Regions from separate parts of the Homo sapiens genome. Here regions 2, 3 and 4 are each linked to region 1. Evidence: fine-mapped expression QTL. A gene starts in region 1. Each other region holds a variant in brackets. All regions are shown on one strand. Distances are from middle to middle. Region 1 holds the start of CDIN1 (CDAN1 interacting nuclease 1). Region 2 overlaps CDIN1 (CDAN1 interacting nuclease 1). Region 3 overlaps LOC105370769 (a long non-coding RNA gene). Region 4 overlaps CDIN1 (CDAN1 interacting nuclease 1).

What was found. PIP is the estimated chance that this variant, and not a neighbour inherited with it, causes the effect.
Region 2: its variant is fine-mapped to the expression of CDIN1 in tibial nerve (GTEx, PIP 0.90).
Region 3: its variant is fine-mapped to the expression of CDIN1 in monocytes (Fairfax 2014, PIP 0.95).
Region 4: its variant is fine-mapped to the expression of CDIN1 in skeletal muscle (GTEx, PIP above 0.99).

The regions. Positions count from the first base shown.
Region 1 is chr15:36,577,421-36,582,577 of GRCh38, reverse strand. It overlaps CDIN1 (CDAN1 interacting nuclease 1), which reads right to left and starts at 2,952. Exons shown (of 11, transcript NM_001321759.2): 1 at 2,617-2,952. The coding sequence starts at 2,717. RefSeq lists an enhancer at 2,714-2,833.
Region 2 is chr15:36,689,344-36,694,500 of GRCh38, reverse strand. It overlaps CDIN1 (CDAN1 interacting nuclease 1), which reads right to left. Exons shown (of 11, transcript NM_001321759.2): 6 at 2,737-2,816; 7 at 2,326-2,375. Among named protein-coding and RNA genes, the nearest start is that of CDIN1, 110 kb to the right of the region's middle. The variant G/C (reference allele first, on the strand shown) is at 2,253.
Region 3 is chr15:36,433,766-36,438,922 of GRCh38, reverse strand. LOC105370769 (a long non-coding RNA gene) reads left to right here. Exons shown (of 4, transcript XR_932111.3): 4 at 1-1,342. Among named protein-coding and RNA genes, the nearest start is that of CDIN1, 140 kb to the left of the region's middle. The variant G/A (reference allele first, on the strand shown) is at 2,806.
Region 4 is chr15:36,602,503-36,607,659 of GRCh38, reverse strand. The region is part of intron 1 of CDIN1 (CDAN1 interacting nuclease 1); the gene reads right to left. Among named protein-coding and RNA genes, the nearest start is that of CDIN1, 25 kb to the right of the region's middle. The variant T/C (reference allele first, on the strand shown) is at 2,034.

The DNA.
Region 1 (5,157 bases):
ATTCACATTTGGACTTATGGTACAAAAACAATGGTGAGTAAAACTGCCAGCTCCTGAGCATAAAACAAGGCACAAATCATAGGCATCATAACTGTACTAGTAGTCACTGTATTCACTGCCACACACGTGCAGGAAAAACAAAACAAAACAAGACTTTCACTAAAGAATATTCTCTTATTAATTGCATTAAATCTCAACCCTTGAATACACAACCTTTTAACATTCTGTATGACTAGAGTAAATACAAAGCACATATACTTCATATCAAAGTATGATGGTTGCCTCCCAGGAAAGCACTTGTATGACTGTTTGAGAGCTGAACTAGCTACTTTTTCTAGGGAACACCATTTTTACTTGAATTAATGATAACAAAGTATATTATTCAGATTTAAGTATCTGGCAGACACTTTCTCAAAAATAAACAATGTGAGCCTGTCATTTCAAGGAAAACAACTAATAGCATTTGTTGCCAATGATAAAATTTGAGCTTTCAAGGGAAAATTCAAATACTGGAATGCTCATATCCATCACCACAAGCTTGACAGCTTCAAATCTTACAGACTTCTGATGAGATTAGAGATGATATTAACAAATGTAATTTTTTGATATTGTATAATGAAAGGTGACATTTGTAAGATCTGCACAACTCACAAGCAACATTTTACAAAGGAATAATGCACGATGATAACAAATCAGGCATGGGTAAAAGATCCATTCAAGTTCAAAATAGGCCAATGGATTGTAATGCAACAAGGTAACAATCACCTTGATGTGGTGATTCACCCACCTCAGCCTCAGGAGTAGCTGAGTAGCTGGGTCTAAAGGCACATGCCACCACACCCAGCTAATTTTTTGGATTTTTATTAGAGACGGGGTTTTGCTACGTTGCCCAGTCTGATCTGGAACTCCTGGCCTCAAGTGATCCTCCCATCTCGGCCTCCCAAAGCGCTGGGATTACAGGCGTGAGCCACCACACCCAGCCCTAAATAGCTCTTTAATCCCTTCTTTTGCGGATTAGTAGTTCAGCTCTCTCTAAATAAAGTTTCCTGTGGAAGGAGAGTTGTTATTTATTCCCTGTATGGCATTTGGGAGAAGTGAAAAAGATTTGAGTATATCATGAATAAGAAAGAAAAGAGCATAAGAGAATACACCAGACAGAAGGGAGGCTTTTGTAAGTGTTGATTAAAGTAACAGACACTTACTTATTATAGAGAAGACAAGGTATTTGCTAGAGAAAAGAACGAAAAAGAGAAAAAGAGGGAGAGGAAGAGAAAAAAAAGCAAAATTACAAGTGATTGCATACATAGTGAGAGGAGAATATCAAAATGTATGCTCTTTCTTAAAACTGCCCAGAAAAATCTACCTATTCCCTTGGCTGACCAGTCTTCACCCATTTCACTGTTCATGTGCAGAACTGGCAAGAGTTAATGACAGAAAATTAAATTATGTGTCAATTTTGTTCCTTCTTAGCAAGTCTGATAAAATACTAAAGGCTATAAAGGGATAAATATTGCCCTAAATCAAATCTGGATAATATTGAAAAGAGACTCCTTCATTTTACAGACTAGGAAAACCAAGTCCTTCAAAAAGCAAAGTCATAACAGAACTTAAACTTATGCTTCAATTTGTACTTTGATACCTATTATCCAATTACCTTTCTTTTCTCAAGAAATTACTTCTGTCGTGTTTGTTCAGGGACTGAATACGTCAAGGATGGGGAAGCTCTCCATTAGGAATAACCATGCTCAGTGCCACAAAACAAAATGGTACAGGTTTGGATTTGGTTTTTCATTAGGAAAAAAGTAAACAAACATTCTCTGCTTTTAACACAACATAAATACAGTGACCTGGTTGTCCTCAACTGGTTCCTCATGTAATGTTGGGGTCTCAGTTTCCACTTCATTAAAATGAGAAATCTACATAATTCCCAAAGTCCTTTCTTAGAAAGTTGGATAATTCTAAAATCGCTGAAAAAAGAAGTGTTTGGGGGAGGAAGTATGAAATACACCCGGAATGTGTGTATGCATAACATATATGGAGAAACTTTAGATCTGGTTGTTCAAATGGCCAATGACCCAAGAGTGGAATCCCTGGGTACCCTGCTCTCTGATTGGATTGAGAACCCTTGAGGTCACTTAATTCCACAGTTAACAGTACAAGCCACAGTCAAACAGTATGAAGCCGCTTTACCTCTATGCTCCCTTGTTTGTTTCCAACGGCCAATTGAAAAGGGTCCTCCATTTGCTCCTTTCGAATCTACAATTCATATTCCCACCCATCATTCATTCCTACTATCTGTCAATTAACCTCTGGTCATTTATGAAGCACCTACTATGTTCACCCATCACCTAGCACGTACCACGTTTTCCATAAATATCTGTTGACTTGAATTTAATTGCAAGGCCTTGGAAGGCTGCCATGAACTCACCGTTAAGAGTTTTGTGTGGAAGGCGAGTGAAAGAATAAACCTTTTTTCGCCAACCTCGACCTCCTAACGCCTGACACTGGTGTTCCTCCCCACTCATGTGTGACACGTGGTTCCTAAGCGCTGCCTGGGCGGCCCAGGCACTGCTGCTGCAGGCAAAGGGCTGTGAGAGGGGAGAGATGGACACTTACCTGGGAAACCTCTGCTTCAGCTTCCTCAGGCTCTGCCTGGTAGGCGGCACAGACACTAGGCACTGGGCTATCTCGTCGTACTGAGCTTTGGTCAGTATCATGTTGGGCCAGGGACCAGGAGGTGGCGGGAACAAGGAAAAAACACCCTGGGGCTCAAGTAGCCTTGGTGCCGAGGGATGAGGGGTAGGCAAAGCGGCACAGGCCCGGGTCCTCGCCTGCTTGGCTTGCCCCAATCCCCCCTGAAACACACCCCTAGCTGCAAAAGCGGGGCGGAGACTCGCCCGGTCCCAGGCTCCACCGGCACCTCCGCGGCGGGGACTGGCTGTACACCAGAGTGCCCTAGCTTGGCTTACTGAGCAGCCGCAGTGGTGCGCCGAAGGCAACTAGCCGCCATGTCAGTTAAGGGCAAACCAACCAGGAAGTAGCGGCCGCCCTTGGAAAGGCGCCGCGCCAGAGTTTCAGTAGGCAGGTAGGAATCCAGGGCATCGCCCACCTAGGATCAAAGGGTCAACAAGGGATGCTTTGTACTCTCCCAATTACTAGAAGCCAGGGCGGCCTGACGCACAGACCAGGCGGCAGGTCTCACGAGTGCCCCGCGATCCTTCAGCGTGAGCCCCCGAAAGCCCCTGCCAGAGCGCGCGATTTGAATACACTTCCTAACGCGCCAGTTTGAGCGCTCCTCGGAGCGTGGACTGGCCTGCCGAGAAACCATGTCTTCACTCTACCAAGTCTGTCATGGTCCGAGCAGGAAAACTCACTAGGGTCGCTGTAAACATAATTTGGCTTGTGTTGAGGAAGCCCTACAACTTCTGTACATCGCGTGGAAGGCAGTTTTGTCCTTGTTGAGAAACAGACTTGAAACAAATCCGACGTCATCAAACAGCCGGCAGTAAAGAATGTCACTTTTGGCCGGGCGCGGTGGCTGACGCCTGTAATCCCAGCACTTTCGGAGGCCGAGGCGGGCGGATCACGAGGTCAGGAGATCGAGACCATCCTGGCTAACACGGTGAAACCCCGTCTCTACTAAAAATACAAAAAATTAGCCGGGCGTGGTGGCGGGCGCCTGTAGTCCCAGCTACTCAGGAGGCTGAGGCAGGAGAATGGCGTGAACCCGAGAGGCAGAGCTTGCAGTGAGCCAAGATCGCGCCACTGCACTCCAGCCTGGGCGACAGCGAGACTCCGTCTCAAAAAAAAAAAAAAAAGTCACTTTCACTCCTTGCAGTTAGCTGCTCAAGGTCTAAAATCGCATCTTATTGTAACCCCAGTTCTCAGAAAATAGTAGGCGCTCAATAAATGTTTGGAGTAATGAGCCAATCTTTTTTTATTTTCTATATGTATTGTGAATGGATCTCAGTTCTCCTAAAGCAATTTGTTGGGATATCAGTCCCTCATTTAATCTCTTTTCTAAAATCTGTTTGGTTCTTAGAAGGTCATGTGTTGTGTTTCTCTTCTGATTTCAACAATTTAAGCAAACTAAAGCAAAGGTGCTTAGACTTTAGAGAACCTGTAAGTGGTTTAAAATTTTTCATCTGGAATAATGCCTGGGTTGGAAGTTTTAGATATACCTCCTTGAATAAATTCCTTAATCCATCGAAGCCTCATTTCTTTTGTCTGTAAAACTGATTTAATTCATGGAGGTGTTTTATTTGTGTATGTTTGATGTAGAGATGGAGTCTTACTCTGTCGCCCAGGCTGGAGTGCAGTGGCTCCATCGTGGCTCACTGCACCCTCGAACTCCTGGGCTCCAGCGATCTTCCCACCTCAGCCTCCCGAGTAGTTGGGACTACAGGCACATGCCACTACACCTGGCTAATTTTAAAATTTTTCTCTAGAGATGAAGTCTCGCTTTATTGACCAGGCTAGTCTCAAACTCCTGACCGGAAGTGATGCTCCAGCCTCTACCTCCCAAAGTACTGGGATTACAGGCATTAGCCACTTCGCCCGGGCATGGGCTGTTTTTAAGATTAACAGGCTGGTACAAATAAAAGATTATATAGCGTGGTGTCTAGAGGATAGTCTATGTGAAATATTAGGTTGGTGCAAGAGCAACTGCGGTTTTGGCCATAAATAAATAGGCTAAGTAAGACTACTTGATAAAAATGGACAGGGCGTTTACTAGGTATTGTTTTACAGGCTCCCCATGCACAGACTCGCTTAATCCTCATAACTTCCTGCCAGGCAGGTACTATTGCTGTTATCCTCCTCTTCCCTTTTGTACAGAGTGAAAAAACTAAGACATGAAAAGGTTAAGGAACTTCTAGAGGTCATGAGGATAAGTAGCAGTAGTAAGATTTAAACTCCTGAAATTTGGTTCCAGAGTCAGTGCTCTTGCCAACTTTCAGTAATGCTTAATTACTACATCAAATAGTCACACTGTCTTAAGCCAAAGGTTAAGGATTTTTTTTTAAAGGGAATATTGTACATTTCAAAGAATCTTTTAGCCTTGGTTTTTAAAAACTTCACTACTTTTAATTTTCTGAGGCATCTCAAAATCCAATACCAACAGTGGATCCTGAATTTAACAACCATAGTTTTTCCTGA
Region 2 (5,157 bases), 110 kb before region 1:
TTACTTTATTCTACTTACACAAACATAACATTTTCATAAGGCACTAAGAAGGTTTAGCACCTATCTTATTTACTGAATGTGTGCTTTCTTTCTCACATCATGATGTAATTTACTGAGAGTAAGCAATGTAAATATTACTAAACTATCAGAAAAACAAACAGCACATTTACTCACATGGAAAAACAATAATTTTTATTCAGTGTGAAATAAAATAATTATGCTGATCAGTCTAGGAAACATCTATGCAAGTGCATTTATACATTATATGAAACTGCTACTACTTCAATGCAGAGACAACATCAGTTTCTCTGTAAACTTCCCAGCCTGTTTTATTTTGCATGACAAAAGCAATCACCAAGTTGAAATTTTGGAAAGATATGTTTCTTAATTATGCTTTGCTTGATATAAACATATATGAAATGCAAAGTCTAGAAAATAAAACTTATAAAATCTGTAGTTTTACTGGCAACAGACATAATGAAACTGCAAAAATTATAACCTAGTCGGTGAATGTAATTTATAGACATACGTCATTATCTTTATCAATTGAAATCATGTACTACATTAAATTCTACTGGCAATAACACAACCAAAAAAGGAAAGTGAATGGTGGCAAAAATGTAAGGAAAATACTCCAGACAGAATTTATAATGCTGTATAAGCAAAAACACTTAGACTTTGTCTATAATAATACCTATTATTGATGTATGGCAGTGACCATGGGCAAAACTTGTAAATAACCTCACAAGCCATTTTCTTCACCAGCAATACAGCAATCTAGTTTCCCGTAAGCATCTCAACTATTACTGAAAAATAGCCTCCTGGCATTTACAAAGCAGTTGACTTCATACTTTAGTCCGTGCATACATAATTAGATAGTTATATTTAAAATCAATATGCAATCCTTCAAAAGACATTATGCTTTTAAAACCTTAACTTTAAATTGATTTTTAACTATTTTATGTGCTTTAAAATTAACATGTAATTCAACCCCAGATACTCTGAGATGGTGTTAGTTGATATATGAATGTGCTAAACTTTCTCAGTGTTAGCAACATAAGGTTGGTACTCCTACAGTTTCTAACACTATCATTAATTTTATACTGAATATAGAAGTACAATTTCACTTTGGTTTAATAAAAAGGTGAGCTTGGGATAATGCTGTGTGTTTTTACTAATTTAAGCTAGACTGGAGAAACAGACTTGGAGGAGAAATACATAAAGGGCTGTATCTTCAATACTGAATATTCTTGTAAGAGGGCTCTGTTCAAAGGTTATTCATCAAAGATTAACTTTACTTATATAGGCATGATTTTCTTATTAAAAATGTTACGACTCTAAGCCTTTGTGAAAGAAGGTGGAATATAAACACATACATGTACACGATTTGACTAGCAGGAGTTTCCAACAAAAAGCCTCCTAACTAGTAATTACTGAGTCACAATTCATCACAGTGCCATCCATGCTAACAAAATCCATACCAGGAGGGACATGTTTATATTATTAAGAGGGGTGAAATTCATGGACTCGGATAGAAATTATTCTCATAAAAATTACTCATTATTTACCATTTAAATAGCACCTTTGAGGATTATCAAAAACCTTGCTGTTGCCACAGTACTACTAAATTTATTGATTAATAATGTCCTACTTTATGTAGTTACTGTCTGTTCAATCTTGTTTTAAAAAGTGAACATTAACTCTTTAGTAATCTCAATGTCTTTAATGAAAAGTGACTGGACATCTGTTTTCACAACCTTAAATGTATTCCAGGAGGAAAAATTAACTTGATTTCTCTAAAAATGTTTATTAGGAATCCAAATGCCGGCTCAGATTGTAATCAGCATTTAAGCAATAAGAATCTGTTGCCTTTAAAATGTGATGTCTCTGGAAGCATTTTAATCACAACCTCCTTTAACTCCAGGCTCTAAATTTATTCTCGTAAATTCAACAAAATTTGGCTCATTTTAAATGGAAATTTGTTATATTTTTAAAAAATGTTTACTGGGATGGGTAGATACATTCCAAGACATTACGTTACCTGCCTAATGACTCTGTACCTGTAAACTCATTGAAAACCAGGCAGTTTGAAAGAAGCATGTGAATGTGTGACTGCTGAACTGACATCTTCCTGTGGTCTACCTGATATTTCTTAAGCTGTAGAAAAGAATGGTCTGTAGTGACCCTCCAGTTGATTGAATGTAAAATAGAAGAGTATGAAATGTGTTTTGTGAAGCAGAACTTTATGTCAG[G/C]TTAAAGCTAGACACATCTCCACTGAGTCTAAGCTCGTCAATTGCGCACCTAAAATTTTATGGGAAAGGATACTGCTTGATGCAGTCCACTAGTGGTCCGTAACAGCAGTCGTTCACAATGCACTGCAGACAAATAAGAAAAGGGGTCTGGGGTGGGGCGGCTACAAAAACTATTACAGTAAACAATATCCTAAAAGCAGTAATTACTTTTCTTCCCCCACCCCCGCCCCCCAAAAAAAGAAAGCTATCAAAAGGCGGTTCGGATTTAATCACAGAAAACAAAAATTGCATGCTTTTTATTCACTATAAAAGCAAGCTATTAAAAAGTGAAATGCTCTTCTCGCAAATACTGCATTGCCATTTATGGTGCACCCTGACCTCAGTGATAGTTTATGATGACAGTAATTAAATGAGGTTTAAAATCCTTTACTCTGCTAGGCAGATAACAGCATTGCCACTGAAAATAGACAGCTGTGATTAATACCTGATAGACCTGATTTGCTAGAACTCCATCTGGAATCTGAGAAGGGTCCCGTAGCATACTATTTATAATAGACTTGGAGGCTGTAGAAGAAAAGAGATGAACTGTTAGCAGATAGTCAACATACTTTTAATGCAACATGAGGAGTGACATATATCTACATATACACAAACCATGAAAACAAAAATATGACTGGCATTAATCATTTTTTCCTTTTTCTATAATCTAACAGAAGCTTTTAATTAGACCATTTTGCCAAGTTTATAAGCCACACTACCAGATTTGATGATGACCTAATTTTTCCAAGGTAAATTAACAAGTACAGACCTAAAGCATATGTCTCTTTTGTAGATAAATAAGCTTCCGAAAAGCCCATTTGGGGTAAAAAAAAAAAAATCAGAAAATATTTACCTTTTGCAGGTAGTTATTTTATAACCAAGCATATGTATATGAAGAGTTTAATGAAGACAGGTCAGATCTGAAGTCTTTGAATCTGACCTGTCTTCACTAAACTCTTCATATACATATGCTTTAATTATATCAATTAAAATGGCTTTCAGCCATGAAAGAATCTTCTAATTCTAAACCTTTCCAAAATAATTCTCATCAACTGCCATAAAATCCTATCTCCATTCCACAAGTGAGGAAAGTAGGTAAAACTGACTGAATTGAGAGAATCTTAAATAAGGAAAATATATACAGAGAGAGACACACACACACAAGTTTTCCACCCAAAATATGCCTCAACTTGCAAATTAAGTTGAACCCCAAGGGAACTGCTATAGAAGAAGAGGGGGCACTAAGGGAGGCATCTGATGAAGGTGCTATAGCAAGTGACATCCTTTGGAAAGCAAGGTAGGAGATCCTGACCTCGCTGCTCACTAGGCATGTGGCAGCCACAGTAGCCAGAATTCCTTTTAATGCATGGGAGAAGGGCAGGTCTCTAGGCTGAAGCTAAGTCACGTGTTGCCTAGGTATCGATTATTTCAAGGCCTCCAGTGGAATTATTCACCACAATTTAGCAAAATGGCTTATGGTCTGATCCACACAAGCACAAATTAAAATGCATACTGAATAATTATCTAATTATCATCATTCAAGTTCTGAGATAATTTCGGGTCTAACTTGTTTTCTTTTAAGATTATGTTCTTTATCAAGCTCTATACTATAAGAACACTGATACATAAGATAAATGTTAGTGGCCAGGCGCGGTGGCTCACGTCTGTAATCCCAGCACTTTGGGAGGCCGAGGCGGGTGGATCTTGAGGTCAGGAGATCAAGACCATCCTGGCTAACAAGGTGAAACCCCGTCTCTACTAAAAATGCAAAAAATTAGCAGGGTGTGGTGGTGGGCGCCTGTAGTCCCAGCTACTCGGGAGGCTGAGGCAGGAGAATGGCATGAACCCGGGAGGCGGAGGTTGCAGTGAGCAGTGATCGAGCCACTGCACTCCAGCCTGGGCAACGGAGCGAGACTCTGTCTCAAAAAAAAAAAGAAAAAAATGTTAGTAAATACTGTGGAAATAAATAAGGAAATTACATCTTATTCACTTAAAAATAGTATTGGGTCTGCAAAGAAAAAATGAAGCATGATTATTTTAATTACTGCCCACTGTTAGTCATATAACTACATGCTTATAGCAACACTTATGTACTTAGCCATTTGTGAACACGTGTTTGCACTGCAAGTGAAAAGGTCATATGGAATCTCCAAAAGAGCATCACCCAGCTATCCTATCCAGCCCTATCTCTACAACTGGCTCTGCAACCTTGGCAAGTTACATAGCTTCCCAAGTTTAATGCCCATTGCTATCTGTAGAAAGTGAAAATATTATTTAAGCTGACTACCGAAATAAAGTGTTCTTGTGTGGTCTCTAGAGAAGACAGCTAAAGCACTATTTTGCTAAGTTCAAGTAATAGTAAGAATCAAATCAAACTTAGGTATTTACTTCATACAAACCATAGGGTTGGACTCAATTATTTCTGAAAGCAATTACCACTGATAAGTGGTAAAAATATCGGGAATAGGAAACAATGAATCATCTTCTTATAAAAGAAAAGATTACAGCAGCAATAGTATTAAAAAAATAATGTGCCTGGGAAACTCAGTATTCCCAACCTAATTCTAAGGCCTGGCCAGTCAGAGGGGACCAAAGCAGTTGTCCATACCTTTCATTACCTTCTAGAGGGAACTCTCTCTGGCCTGCCACTCGAGTCACCACATGGTAATGGCAGACACATTCTTTTATGTTGCCCATAATGCCAGCAGAGGCCTAAGAAAATAGGAGCACCTTCTCTGTATGGACCCCAGTCATGGTACATTCCAACTCTCATGAACCCATGTGAGGAAGAGATCACTAATATGTAAGTGGCCATGACTAAGAACGCTATCCTATAAAAATTACAGATCTCATATCAAACTATATG
Region 3 (5,157 bases), 140 kb after region 1:
TTAAACTTCCTTCAATTGTTAGATAAGGCTTGGAGTCAGAATCACCAAAATTATAAAGTGGGAGGGGAAAAACATGCCAGTAGCTATTGAAAGATGTAACAAAGATTTGACTAATCTGAATATTTATAGTTTGTAATAGCTTATTGGCCATCATAGTCTGATAAACCTGCACTATCGCCCAGGCACACACAATTCATTGCCTAGTATCATTATGATTATCTATGGCTGTCTCATTACTCAACCATTGCTTCACTTGTATCAGGAGTAAAAATAAGCCATAAGCTTCCCTGTTGCTTAACCTAACAACAAATCATTCCAATTCCAAGCCCAATGTCTATTATTCAAAGCAAATTAGGATCGTACAGACAGATTTCTTCTTCCTTCACTGGGGCAGCTGACCTCTCTCCCCTGAAGCTGTCGACCCATGCAAATGTTACACTTAGGAACTCATTCTTGATTTTCGGGAGTTACAAATCCCTAATAACTTAACGAGCAAAACATAGAGTTAGCTTTGCAATGCTTCAGCACACAAATTAGCTAGACAAATAAAAAGGATTAAAAAAATCTTGAAAACAGCACTTATCATCAGTCTCCCATTCAGAAATAATGAAGGGAGATGGTTTATACAGACTTAGTAATAAGACACGACATAAATGTAAATATAACATGTTATGCCCTTTCTTCTGGTGAACAATAAGCATTTTGTTCATTATCCAGAGCCTCTTTGTTTATAATGAATGTGGTGATGAATCGAAGTTATGACATCAATTAAATCACAAGTTTGTATTATTTTCAAACAGACAAAATGCAGATATTTTAAGGCAGGTAGGAAAAATGATGAGTTACTGTCTATTCTTGGTCTCTAAATGAGTTATACATATTCAAAAAAGGAACATTAAAGATGCTCTACAAAGCCAGGATCATATATTACTTTTACTCTGAACAAAGATAACATTTGTAGAATGCCATTAGCAATAAATCTTTTAGATTTTTTCACTTAAAATCTTATGATCCCAATGGGAAGAATAGATAATCAGTAAATAGAACTCTGATATCTGTCAGGAATTTGCCTGAATTAGAGCTGAACTATCTTGACAGGGAGCTTGAGAAAAAAAATTACCTTTGGTATTCTGATGAATGTATTTGAATTTTTCTTTAAAGGCATCACTAAAATAGAAACAAAAGTACTTACCTTGTCACAGTTGAAAAACACAGGATGTGTAGTACATAATTACCAATGATACAAAGTAAATATCGTTGGATAAAAAATACAGACCATAGAATCATTTCAAAGAATATTGAACTTGAATATGTTATAATAAAATATAAACTGTTTGGTATTATGCATTTCTCCTTTTTGTGATTTTGTAATTTCAACGTAAGAGAGAAATATGAATTAAAAATGTTTTATAAATTTTCTCTTTTCTTTTCCAACCAATGGTTATGTAAGGAGAGAAAAAAAGAAGGGAGAGGATTTAAAGCATTCTGGAATAGTCTACATATTATGTCCAGAAAGACATGGTTCTTGTTGACTCTTTGGAGCATTGCAGTATCTGGCCCTGAATGTGATTTAGTTATGGAGTCACTGTGTATTAAATACTCAGTGCAGAAGGTTTCATATCTTTCCATCATCTTGTTTCTCTGGAAAGAAAGGGCTCCCAGAAAGGGGGACTGTAATATGCCGAGGAACTCTTCTTGAGAAGAGAGTTGCCTCGCTAACATCTCTGTGCACAACTCCCCCTGCTTTTCTCCTTAAAACATGCATTGCCCATGAACTGGAATAGAAGATGGCTCATTAGCTTCTTAGGGTCCTCTGGAAGCCATAAGAGGACAGTGGAATGTGGCAGGAGGAGTGCTGGTGGTGTCCACTTCAAAGAACAATCCTCTCTCTCAAATCAGTGTGTGACTGGTACCAGAAAAGGCCACTTAGAGTGAATCTATTCAAAATTGAAGCCAACCTTTTGTGGACAATAGTGGAAAATGGAAAGCTTTGGTTGAGCTTTATCTAAAAATAAAATAGAACATAATGAAAAAAATTAAAAAAAATGCTTAACAATGAAAACGATTCTCTAGTCCTTAGAACAAATGAAAAATTAGCCAAATCTTAATTTTTTTCAATTATCTTCCCAGCATAATTTTAGGGTATTAAATTCTCCACTGGGTACTTGACTTGAAGATCATGCTCATAAAAAGAATCAATTGTGCAAAGATATTCCATGGCTTTTTAAATTTTCAAATGAGTTTTCCTAATTATTTGGTTTTTAGCTTATTCCCTTTTGAATCTCATTATCTTTTTCATTTTCCCTATTTTCAATTTTCTGACCTTGATGGAGCCACAAAATCTTTGCCTGTGACTTGAGCAAGTCTCTAATATCACTTGAATAAATTGTATGAAGTCCTGCATTTTGAAAAGATTTTCAATTTAACTTTTTAGGTTTTTTTTCTATTTACATGGGAAGTTGTAACTATCAGATTGTTAGCAGGATTATAACTGATCAAGATGTTGATTTTGTGGATTAAGGTAGGCACTATATTAATTGCAGAGGGGAGTTTGGGTTGCTACTAATTTTACAATTGCTCAGTTCACCAGTGAATATTTTCATGCTATGACAACTTTTGATTTCCTACGGGGGATTTCTTGATGAGGAATCAGATACCTGTGTCTATCTGACAATCTACTGAAGATTCAGAGAAAACAATGCAGGGATTAATAACAGCTAAATAGCTAATATGTTTTTGAAAGTGAACTATGTTCTAAGCATTTAAACATTTGTGCCTCGGAGTTGTCACTGTGCTATGTAAGAA[G/A]GAGGGGCATTTTGGCTTCAGATTGCTTATTTTATTCTTAAATTGCTTAGACTCCTTTGCTGCAGATTCATTGTTCTATCCATCTATTACACATGCATATATGGGTGCTCACTGTCCATCAGACACTGTGCTAGGCCCTGGAGATATAGAGCTAGATCATGCAGAAAGCTCAGGATCTAGTAGGAGACACATCACTCTCTACTGTCCTGAGCAAACAGTACAGCGGAGATCTTTAAAAAAATTTTTTAAAGACTAGTTACTATGATACATTTACTATGTGTCAGAGACCACACTAGATGCTTTACTTAGATCATTTCCTTTATTCTAACAATCTGGTTGGTGGCTGACACTAGATTTGTACCTAGCTTTTTCTGAGGCCAAAGCCATGTTCTTTACCATGGTGCTCCACCACCCACTGCTTCATAGTGAATATAAAGACAAAGGTTTATGTCTAGGTACTGTGAGAACATCTAGGAGGGGACCCTAACCTAGACTGAGGATGCTTATGAAAGCCTCGCTGGGGGTGTCATTATCTTAGCTAGATGCCTGAGGACAAGTGCATAGCCTGTTGGCAAGGAAGAGCAACATGGAGATGTCGTAAAGGGATGGGTTGGATTCAGGAAATTTCTCTTTGTTTTCCTCAGTATTATAAGCATAGTTATAGTATAGACCATTTTACACTACATTACCTAGAATATAACAATGTAATTTCATTTATAATTATGTTTAGCGTTCCTAACATGAAAAAATTCCAAATAAAATCTTGTATCTAATTATTGTCCTCATTTTTGTACAAAAGATTTCAAAAGCCCACTGCCTCGGGCGGTATACTTAAGAGGGATTGTTACTCAACTGATCACTGCTTCTTCTGATTCCTTCTACAATGTATATTTACCAAGAAATGTCACATGGGATTTTGCATTTATATAATGCTTTTTAGGGCAATGAAAACCCAATATAATCAGTCGGCTTATTTAATGTTCAAAGTGCTTAATAAGCTTTTTTTTTTTTTGAATGAACCATCTAAATGAGATTTTTTTTCTTTTTTCATTAATTAACTCACCAGTGCACCAAATACGTATCAGATAAATGAGTTGATAGGGTCCCCAGTTTAGTTGAAGATGCAATACGGAAAGCACTAATTAGGCAGGCAAGAGCTCCAGATAATTAAATAGTGATTAATAGATTTTTGTACTACCAAAATTAAAAGTAACTAATTGGCTGAAAAAATATTTAAAATTGTGTGCTTGGAACTTGTATGTTGAACATGATTCTGTGGGACATGAAGATTATTTTGATTTTAAGAGTAAAGGGTTTTTTTTTTTATTCGTTTTCCCTTTTCTGACATCTTGTGTCAAAGTGTTCCCATGTTAATAGTAGAATATAATGGAAGTTTATGCAATTAAATACAGCAAGAGAATTTATAGACCATTTATCACTGGATATGGGTCATATACTGTGAATTTCAGAAAATAAAAGGGAATTCCATTTGTAGCCTAGTCTTGCCTGAAGCTCACCTAATGAAATCTTTCTCACTCATAGAATTAACAGTGTATCCAGCTGAAAAGTATTTAACATTCTCTATGCATACTAAGCATGCAAAAGTAGAATAAAACCTTGCATACTTACAGGGGATTTTTGTTGCTTTTTCTTCAGCCCAAATTAGGCAGCTCTTGTTCATTTAATGCATTTGAAAGGAGCTGAACTTTTAAAATTCTGAACTGTCAGTCCCCATCATTTCATTTGACAGCTGACACTTTGAGAGTGAAGAACACACAAATCATGTGAGTGGAGTGAAACACTGCTAATAAATGCTATTGTTTTTCCTGATGGAAAGAAGCACCTTAAACAACTGTTTGCAGATCCAATGGGTTTGTTATGATGCAAAATGCATGTTTGGCTGTCACCATTTATGTTTACTACCTGCAGAGCATAAAATTGCTGATAAAAAATTGAAGAAACATAAGGCCAGATTCATTAGGAAAAGAACCATGCTTTTTCTCCTCCCCACCTTACCCCTCAACTTCCCATTTTAATATGATAAACATTGAGTCTTCCTTCATTAAGGCATGGAACTAAATAAATAATGTATGGTTCTTGAGATAATTACAAGATTTCTGTATTTATGGAAAACACAAATTCTGAAACATTTGCTTGTCTGCTTGTACTTTGTGCTTTTTTAGCAAGCAAAGGAACTTGTGAAAATTGGCTCTGCCATTTTGGAATTTTATTTGAGAATATTCATGATCATTTTGGGGGCTTTTTGGCTTTGTTTTTCTCCCATAAAAGATCTGAGGCCAAATGTTTGTAGGTTGAACATATCCTCCTTCCTGATGCAGAAAATCTGTATAT
Region 4 (5,157 bases), 25 kb before region 1:
ACACTTAATTTTAAACTGGAATGAAGGAAAGACAGAAGAAGGAATAAAAGGAAGTTAAGAGGGAGGAAGGGAGGGAGGGAAAGAGACACACACACAGATCTCAAAGAAGTCAGTCATGATCGCGGGCACACTTCTAGTGGAACAAGACTCCAGATGGAATGCATATTAGATCATATGAAGTAAGCTATTATATTTTACATATTGTATCAGAAAACTTAAGGCATGTTTCTTTAAACTAATAAATTGGGTATTTCTCACAGCTTATTTTAAATACTGTAAAATTACCTCCTCGTATTCTCCTGTGAACTATATCATCAATGTTCTTCATGTTTTATTTTCCTGACACACCAGATAAGATGTTATTTCCATTGAACACAATCCTAGTCTTCAAACTATCCACATTATTTAAGGATGCCACTTCCCACTGATCCAACAATTTGATAAGATATTATAAGACTGGAAACAATGGAGAGGAGTGGAAGATCTTTCCAGTTCATTTTCATGGGTACCAGGCATGATTACACCTACTGTTCACAGATTTCCAGTGACACTTAAAATTTTAACAATGTACTTTTCCAACCTCACAAACGTAGGGACCAAGAAAACACCTTCTGTCACAAGTACCACTGATCAACCCAGAAAATGCCACCAAAATGGTAGTAGAGAGTTAATAAATCAACTCCTACTGCTTTAAACCTCAATTCAAAAGTCTCTCTGTGACTTCCAACCTGTTTGGGTTAATCCCTAGACAGGTGGCAACCTTACTAGAGTAAATTAACCACCCCCTAATTGTACAAAAAGAGCTTGCTGGTAATTGACAGGAACACAGCTAAATATGACTGTGCCCTTAGGGAATATAAAATTTACATAACCCCCTTAGAGGTTAAGGGAATAGTGACTTCTATAAACAGAGGATTTTAATTTAACAGAAAACATTTTAAAATAAAGTTTAGGTATACAGTCTTTTAAGGAATTGAAACAGACATCATAAGCAGGTAAATACAGAACTGCTGTGGGAGAAAATTAAATTATCCAAGACTGCTTTTACCCAGAAGCTTTTTAGCCTTTGTCCTGTATGGCTTATTTTGGATGATTTTTCAACCAGATAATAAAAAGCAATTTCATTTAAGTGCTGCAGTCACAGAGTTTACCACATGAAATCCTTCTAAGCTTCATTTCCGCATCTCTTTATGGGTACACCTCTAGCATTCGTTCATTCTTTGGGTAGCATACTTTCCTCCATGTGTGTGCAGAGTCCCAAACTTCATTCCCTTATTCTCATTCACTTCAAGAAGTGGTCAGTTTGTGGAAATGTAGAAGTCGGACTTTCAGTCATCTTTATGAGCCAAAAAGTGTATTTCTTCCTTTTCCATGAAAAAGAACAGAAATCACATGGGAGGTAGTATATCTAAAATAATGAATCAAAACTTTGAAAGACCCATGCTCAGAAACATATTCATAGTGTATATATTTATATATAAAATATATGTAACACTACACAATGCGTGATGCTTTTAAAAAACCAGCATCAAGGTTATCTACTGTGACTTCAGATCAGCAGAGAGAAGGAGGCAGATAGAATTCTGGAACATGAGTAAGATAACACTCACGTCAAAACAAAAAACAAAAAAAAAACTCCTTGTCCTCAAGCACGCTAATGAAGCAAGTGATAAGCTAGAGGTCAAATTCCCACTTCTACAATCAAAACTTATCATACAAGCTCTTGAAAAGGGAGTGCATCTGTCATATGTTAATGACTTCAAGCCGTTCACTGAACTTTTAGGTGTACAGGAAAACTTAAAAGCACTTCACAACTCCTTGTGGGTATAATTAGCCTGTTGGAATTGTTGGCAATTCTCATTCTGGGACTTTAAAAGGTCACTCCACTCTTTAAGATACCAAATTTGGAGGTACTCTCCCTTCTGGACAGATTAGGCACACCCTGCAATTAGTATACACAGCTGCACCTGTTGCAAAGCCTTCACTGATGTAAATGGGGACAGTCAACAACACTCTAAATTCTTGAGGGATTA[T/C]TAGACCTTGGAAACCAAGTGATGAACAAATCTGATGTCTGCTATTGAGGTGATGGATGGTGGTCACACTCTGACTACACACAGAAGCCAAAATTTTTATTCTTTATAGACAATTCCAGCTAACGCGGAAACCTCCTCACTTGACTCTCTCAATCTTGCAAGGAGTCAACATGCAATTTTGCTATTTAACAGAACTAACTTTTTCATAATCTAGTTGAGTTTCTACAAAGAACAGAGAGAATTCCAGATTAAAAAAAAAATACAAGTTACAAAAACAGCATTATTGATTTATATAAACTTTATTAAATCATGGTGAAGTAAAAATGCTGCTAGTCACATATGGAGAAAAGTCTTTGCAGTTTATAAATTTGTAGGTCAAAGCTACTCAAATTCTCCTTTAATCTGTTAATCCTTTACAAAAGTATTATACACACTGACAATGATAGTGATTTCACGGCTATAGTACAAAATAATAATATAGATATTTAAAAGAAATGCATCTAGGAAAGAGGTATGAATTTAAGAAATCAGATTCAAAGTTTGAGAAAGTCTGATATAATCATCATTAAACAGTAGTTAAATCTTAAACATAAAGCCATAAATTATGTCCTTCCTTACTTCCGTCTTTCCTTTCTTTTTTAATGAAAGAGAAGCACAGAGGACAAGGGTCTAAATCCCCCTTTCTCTTTAAACCATGTGAATCTTAGATATTTTCTATGTCAGAAAACACAATTCTTTGGCAGCTGATATATGTGACCACATAAACAAAAAGAACTACCGTAAAGCCATTTTAAACTAAGATATTGTGCTTGGTAAATCTATTAGGCAAAGAGCCTCTTATTATCACCACAATATGTTAAATATCATCATATATGCTTAGGTGCTTTTTCTTCATATATAAATTCTTTTGAAAACATAATTGGAATTTTACAAAATAGGGAAAAAGCTTTTTTTAAAGGAGTTTTACTATATTACTGTTAAGTAGGTATACTTTCTTCTGAGTGTACTAACTATATGTGTAAATACTTTTAAAAGGTCAGCTGACATAATAATATAAAACTTAATGAGACTATTTCAAAATTAGCATTCCAACTTGAATAAAACCAACAGGAGTTGATTACATTCTTATTGCTCCCCAAAAGTATTTTCATCTGATGTTTACTCTAAAATGTGTGTGTGTGTGTGTGTGTGTGTGTGTGTGTGTGTGTACCTTTTAAAAGTCATAGAAGAACATTATGGAATTGATAATTTTTTTGGGTTTGCTGTTGGGTCTACATGGTAATCAAATTTAGAAAACCATAAATTACACTTAAATTTATTATTTACAAGCAATTAATTATAAAAAAAAAAAAGCCAGGTGGCTTTCATTACATAAATTACTGTTAATGACAGAGACCTCATGCTGCTACTGAATTTAGCATTTGCATGTGTCAAGTGCACATAGTGGTGTGTAACTCCCCTCTTCAGGGTGGAACCAAGCATTGAAGCAGAAGGCAAGCTGCCCAATTTTAAGATCACACCCGAACTGGTCCTTTCAGCCCCACATATTCCAAAGGTTTTAACATCTGTAGCAGAAAATCTGTCTTCCAATAACATTTTGTTGAAACAGCTTTAAAACCAGATATATAATTACTGATCATGAAATAGTGTTTACCTACACTTAGTTACTAAAAGTCCTATCTCTATGATTTAAATATTACCAAAAAAAAAGTTTAACCAATTTGCAGCAAACCAAGGCATCTATTAATATCTCACAAATGCAGTTTTTAAAATAATGTTTAATGTTGCCTCCCTACCACAGAAACTGTGCTAAATAAATGGACAATAACTCTTTTTTCAGGGTTCTCTGTTTTACTCAGCCTTTTGTAGTGATTCCTCCAACTCTACAGTAAGTATAAGTCCCTTCCAAAGACAAGGAAGAATTTTACCTCTTTATTCTGATAAAAAGCATGAGTTTCAATGATATAATAGGAGAGTAGGAGCTTATATGATACAGAAAGAAACACAGGAAGAAAATAAAAATAAATAGCAAATAAGTTTCATCCTATTTCAAACCCTATCCCAAATAGAGGCCTAAAGAAGTATCTCCAACCCCCTCCATCACTACCACCAGAAAAAGGAGAAAGTTTTATGAAAATGCTTTGTAAGCTATAGGATAAAATTCAAAAATTACTATAGTCTCCCTTTCTAAGCAAATAAGAAATGCTTTAAAATGTAACTGAAAATCCTAAATTGAGCTACCACTCTGGTTTTCAAGGATTAACTGCCTAGTTAGATTATCTAACCCTTTACTTTTCTTCTTCCTCTAAGAAGCCTGCCTTATAAACAACCACCAGAGAGACGGGTAACGGAAACAGGTTAGTTAAAGGGAATGTGTCTTTAGCTTCTGAGTAGTCAGTCTACATTTGGGGAGCACAGAGAAAAGGTGGGCATAAAATAAGGGCTAATAGTTAAGGAAGGAGAGTCTGCACTTACTAAGTACAAGGATAAAGTAACAAAATAAACTTTTTCAGCTAAAAGAAGGAGCTAATTTACTCACATTATCTTTGGCCAAAGTAATAATCCCAGAGGAGTGTGATTTGTATATTTAGCACCAATGATGCTGCCATGGCTCAAAAACACAACTTACCTTTTTTTTTTTTTGAGACGGAGTCTCTGTCACCCAGGCTGGAGTGCAGAGGCATGATCTCGGCTCACTGCAAGCTCTGCCTCCCGCATTCACGCCGTTCTCCTGCCTAAGCCTCCCAAGTAGCTGGGACTACAGGTGCCTGCCACCACGCCTGGCTCATTTTTTGTATATATATTTTTTTTTAGTAGAGACGGGGTTTCACCGTGTTAGCTAGGATGGCTCGAGCCTCGATCTCCTGACCTCGTGATCTGCCCGCCTCGGCCTCCCAAAGTGCTGGGATTACAGGCGTGAGCCACTGCGCCCAGCCCAACTTATCTTTAAGAATCACTTTAGAACCACTTTACCAGTTACACAAGAAAACCAACTTCACAGTCACATCTCACATCTCACCAAAATACAGGGTGGCCACCACGTCTAGAAACACAGATAAATACAATAAAGGATTTATTGTTATTGAATTATAACACATGGCAAAATAATTATGTCTCTAGAATT